Linked DNA regions of Homo sapiens: region 1 is linked to region 2. Evidence: fine-mapped expression QTL. Tissue or cell type: whole blood. Region 2 holds a variant in brackets; the other region holds the start of a gene. All regions are shown on one strand. Distances are from middle to middle.

What was found. PIP is the estimated chance that this variant, and not a neighbour inherited with it, causes the effect.
Region 1: JAG1 starts here. The variant in region 2 is fine-mapped to the expression of JAG1 in whole blood (INTERVAL, PIP above 0.99). The same link has a PIP of 0.9 or more in blood mononuclear cells.

The regions. Positions count from the first base shown.
Region 1 is chr20:10,672,462-10,675,144 of GRCh38, forward strand. It overlaps JAG1 (jagged canonical Notch ligand 1), which reads right to left and starts at 1,538. Exons shown (of 26, transcript NM_000214.3): 1 at 989-1,538; 2 at 240-545. The coding sequence starts at 1,069. RefSeq lists a silencer at 1,761-2,160.
Region 2 is chr20:10,473,426-10,476,108 of GRCh38, forward strand. All of the region lies in intron 2 of SLX4IP (SLX4 interacting protein), which reads left to right. Among named protein-coding and RNA genes, the nearest start is that of SLX4IP, 39 kb to the left of the region's middle. The variant A/G (reference allele first, on the strand shown) is at 1,185.

The DNA of each region.
Region 1 (2,683 bases), 200 kb after region 2:
TGGGATCCCCACTTTTGTGCACTAAGCAAATAGCAGCAGGAATGGGACCCACCTCGACTACCCCAGCCGAGATCTAACTATAGTGTCCCGGCTCCCTCACCCGCCACCCCTAGAGATTTCCCCAGTTAGCGCCTAGTTTCAAGCCAAAGCCCTTTAAATCCCTCTCGCAAGGGATAACAGGGCTCGGCCAGGCGCGGGTGTGAGGCTCCGCCCGGCCTCCTTCCCGAGTAGTCACTCACCGGCCAGGCGAAACTGAAAGGCAGCACGATGCGGTTGCGGTCGTTGCCGCGGCTGGCCTTGAGGTTGAAGGTGTTGCCCCCGATGACAGGCGTGGACCCTGAGCCGAAGCTGCAGGGCCCCCCGGCCGTGACGCGGGACTGATACTCCTTGAGGCACACTTTGAAGTATGTGTCACACTCGTCGCGGGTGCACTTGCGGTCTCCCGGGTTCCGGGCGCCGCCGCAGCAGTTCCCGTTCTGCAGCTCCCCGTTCACGTTCTGCATGGACAGGATCTCCAACTCGAACTGACCCGAGGCCCCACACACCTGCCGGCGAGGGAAGGAGGTAGGTCAGCGCGGGAGAAAGCTGTTTTCTTCGAGTATAGAGGTGGCGACTCCCTCCCACTCCCCGCCCCGACGAGCCCTCCTCGCCGAGTGAAAATAATTTTGCGAAACTACGTTCAAGGACTCAACATGATTCCGGGGCAAAAAAAAAAAAAAATGCACGAGTGCGGAAGAAATCCGACGACTTCCCGGGGGGCAACAGCGGAGCGAACGCGCCCCTGTCCGGCCTGGAGGGGTCACCCTCAGGAGGCAGGGGCTCCCGTGGGGGAGTTGGCGCGCTCAGCCCAGGTGCAGCCGCTCGGGCGCAGGGGCGAGGAGTCGGGCGCTCGAGGGCTGCCGAGCCTGCTCGCGGGGCTCAACCGCCCAGGGCGCCGCGAGGGGAGGGAGAGGACGGCTGGGAGGGAGGCCCGGAGAAGGGCTCCTACCTTGGCTCGCAGGGCACAGAGCAGGGCGAGCAGGAGGCTTAGGGGGCGCCCGGACCGGCCGCGCGTCCGTGGGGAACGCATCGCTGCGCCGCGCGCCGCGGGCACTCGGGACGCCGCCGCTGCTGTTCGCGCTGGTGCTGCCGCCGGTGCTGCCGTCGCCGCTGCCCCTGCGGCCGCCGCGTCCCGGCTCTAATATACTCCGCCGATTGGAGCATGCACGACTGGAAAACAACACCACTTTTCAAAAGCCCTTTCAAGAGCGGCCCGTTCCAGAAGGCAAAGAGCCCGGCCTCCTTTTATTATTCTGATCGCTTCTTTGAGACGCTCCCCCTCCTCTTCCACCTCCCGGCTTTCTTTCCTTCTCTCGCGCTCCCCTTCTTTTATTATTATGATTATGCGCAGCCTTTTATTCCCTTTTAGATCAGCTGCATGGAAAAAGGGGGGAGGGAGGGGAGAAAAAAAAAAACCAGCCTAGCTCGCGGGCCGGCCGCAGGTAACACAATGACGCGTGCCCGCCCGGCTCTCGGAGAAGGACCCGGAGAGCCCGTCTGGCAGCAGCGGCCGGGGCTGGCCACCTCTACCCAGCACGCCGGGCAGGGCGCATGCGCGCTTATTAATATTCATGAGAGGGCGTGCTCACCCTGGGCACGCCCCTCCCCTTCACGTTGCTGGGGAGGGGGTAGTGCGAGGAGGAACTTGGAAGGGGTTGGGGGCAGCGGGATGCTCAGGGCGGCGTAGAAGAACCAGGGCCCCACACCAACCCCCGCCCTCGGGAGCTTCGGGCCAGGAGGGAAGGGAGAGTGCGGGGAGGTACTTGGAAGGGATCGTTGCTCAGGGACGCCTGGAGGCCCCCAGCGGGGACCGCCCCCTCGGGCGCCCCGGGCCGTGCGCCTTTGCCCGCGCGTCGGGGCCCCAGGTGTAGGCGCCGCGGCGCTGACTGAGCGGTCGGAGCGGGGCAGCTTCCGCCTTCCGAACCGCCTGCGTCAGCTGCGGCTTTCGCCCCGGGAGGAGGGCCTGCCTGCCCGCCGGGAGTTCGGCCCGCTTCCCGCGAGCGAGCCGCCCAGAGCGCTCTGCTGGCGGCAGAGGCGGCGGCGAGGCTGGCGCGCTTGCCGCCGTCTGCTCGCCCCGCGGAGGCGACCTGGGCAGACGCTGCTGGGAACTTTGAAAAACTTTCCTGGAGCCAGGCTTGCCGCAGATTCGAGGGGAAGCCTCGGCCGCGTCCCACCCCCTCCCAAATCCGAGTCTGCGGAGCCTGGGAGGGCTCCCAGCTTCCTATCCAAACCGCGCCGGGGCAGAGGCGCGGGGAAACCGGGGGTAGAAGGCGGCGGGCACGCCGGGGCCCTGTTCAGGCTTTGGGAAGGGCCGGCGGAGATGCTGGTGGGCTTGGACGCCCTCCCCGGCCCGACGCCCCGGCCGCAGTGCCGGGATTGCACCTGTAGGCGGCCTCCGAGCAGCTCTCTGGGTGGCAAGAGATGGGCCTGGGAGGGACCGTGTCCCCAGCACCGCCAGCCGCGGAACTTGCCTTCTCTGGGGTGGCAGTGGAAACCGATACTGTTTTCCACCTTGAGGCAAGCCTCGCAATTAACAGCTACACTCCTGGTCATAATCAAGGTCGAAGAAAGCCCGTGGGCTGGCCGTAGCCTCTGCTAACCCCTCTCCCACGGGCTTGCTGTTGCATTTGAGGGGACCTTTATA
Region 2 (2,683 bases):
TCGTATAAAGTGTTTAGCACAGTACCAAGTAACCATTTTAGTAAGTGTTAGGCATTATTAGTAATATTCATCTTCATTGTCATAAATATTGATAATCATTGTGGTTAATATTTTTCTGCCAGAGTGTGTCTTGAAGCAGCTTATTCTGCAATTCTTCTTAAAACTGCCAGAGTTCTGTTTCTTTTTTTTTTTTTTGAGACAGAGTCTCACTGTGTCACCCAGGCTGGAATGCAGTGGTGTAATCACGGCTCACTGCAACCTTCACCTCCCAGGTTCAAGCAATTCTCCTGCCTCAGCCTCCCAAGTAGCTGGGATTACAGGCGCCTGCCACCACGCCTGGCTAATTTTTAAAAAATGTTTAGTAGAGACGGGGTTTCACCATGTTGGCCCGGCTGGTTGGTCTTCTTTTTTTTTTTGAAAGGAGTCTTGCTCTGTCGCCCAGGCTAGAGTGTGGTGGCGTGATCTTGGCTCACTGCAACCTCCGCCTCATGGGTTCAGGCGATTCTCCTGCTTCAGCCTTCCAAGTAGCTGGGATTACAGACACACGCCACCATGCCTGGCTAATTTTTGTATTTTTAGTAGAGATGGGATTTCACCATGTTGGCCAGACTGGTCTCAAACTCCTGACCTCAGATGACCCACCTGCCTCAGCATTCCAAAGTGCTGGGATTACAGGCGTGAGCCACGGTGCTCGGCCTCAGGCTGGTCTTGAACTCCTGACCTGAGGTGATCCATCCTCCTTGGCCTCCCAAAGTGCTGGGTTTACAGGCATGAGCCACCATTCCTGGCCAAAGCTGCCTGAGTTCTGATTAGTTCTTTTTAAAAGCTTATGAATGGTGTGCTGGTCTAACAATATTTCAAGTTGTCAAGTAAGAAGGAGCTTCTTACAAAAGCCCATCGTTCTGAACAAGATATTCTTCAGTCCAAAATAATATTGAGAGATCACATAACACAGCTATGCAGATATATTCTAAGCCCTAACTTCGTGGGAGTCATTAATGCCATTTAATGAGGCCCCATACAATGTCTGAACTCTGGAGTTTGCTTTTAAGAGCCATTCTTTCCTAGACCCCCTTCCCTTCTTTACTTTAGGTATTGATGTCCTCCATTTACATCTCTGTGGAGTTTTTTCCTTTTTCTTTTTTCCCCCGCTCCCATTTGTGGTCAAATAAGGATCATGGTTA[A/G]CCCCAGAAGGAAGGCCAGATGGGCCTTGGGGGCCTGGGCTGGGGCTGGAGCCTCTCCACTTCCGCCGGCCGCCTTGTTCACTTCCTTTTTTTCCCTCCCTTACCACTATGTTGCAGCCAAACTTCCGAAGTGAAAAGCAGTTTATTCCATCTAATCGGGGCTGCTGAATCAGAGGTGTTGGGGGTGTTCCCTGGGATGATGCTGCCCTTTGGCCACTGATCTCTGTATCATAGCTTACCTCGGCCTCCCTCTGGCGCCACCATCCAGGACTGGAAGCATTTGCTTTTCCTCAGGGAGCCGTGGGTTCAGGCCATGGGTGGTGAGAGAGTCTCATCTTCTCCAGCTTCCTGGTCCTCAGACTTGAGTAACACTCCTTATCCTCTGTCTGTTGCCTTCTTTGGGCAAGCACGTGGAGCCGCTCAAGTAAAGCTGCTCTTCATTGGGAATATTATCTGCCAAGGCTAAGCCAGGATCCCTAGAGAGCATCCAAGTCAGGGCTTTCAGCAGAGTTCCCTGGAAGCACTGCATTCTGTGGAGGGCCAGAGCCAGATCCCTGTCTCTGCTCCAGCCGACAGCTCGGCCACCATCAGTTTGGTGTATTGAGGTCATGCATAGAATTTAACATTGAAAAACATCCTTGTTCAGCTCCTTCAGTGATGAGATGAGAATCCCTGGGGAGTGGAAAGTGAGGATCTCAGAAGTTGCCCAAGGGAACTTAGTGTCTTATTTAGAGTCATAATAACTAGCTTAGACTAGCGTAACTGCTAGTCAAGGCTCTTTGGAAGGAAGTAACACCCACGCAAACTACTAGAACTTGAAATGGGCAGTTTATGATAAGGGAGTGTGACTGTCTCAGCATACTGGCATCAGTGTGCTATTGAGCTGGTGAGGGCCTGGAGGTAGCTTCAGGTTGCCCATGGCCCTGAGGCAGCTTCACTGTGGGCCTCTCTTTGAGAAGTGGGATTCTGGTCTTTGCATCTTCCTTGTTATTCTCCCTCTGCTGGCCTCTCTCTGCTCCTTTGTTCATGTTGCAGAAGATAGTGGCTCCTCACCTCCCAAGTGACATATCCTACAAAACTGCTGCACTTTCTGCCCCAATAGCAAACTTCTGGAGGTGAATTTGGGCAGATGTCCACTTTTGCTTCATCGATTGTGGCACGGGGCAGTGTCACATGGTAAATACATGGCTGCCCATGCCCACCCTTGAGCATGACAGCTGTCAGAAAGAGGGGCATAGATTCCCCCAGAAGTTACATGATAGTACTTTACAATTTAGAGACTTTGCTGGAAAGTTTCTTTTTGGCAGTCTCATAGACAGGCCTTTTTACAGAACATAGTAATGAGCACTTACAGTTTGTAGAGAGGCCTCGGGGGCATCCAAGAGGTAGCTGGAATAATCTGACCCTTGAGAAGCTTCTCTTGGTTCCTGGGGATGACGATGGTCATAATTAACTGCTTTACTTACAACTTGGCAATGTGTTTTATTATCGGTGTGCAT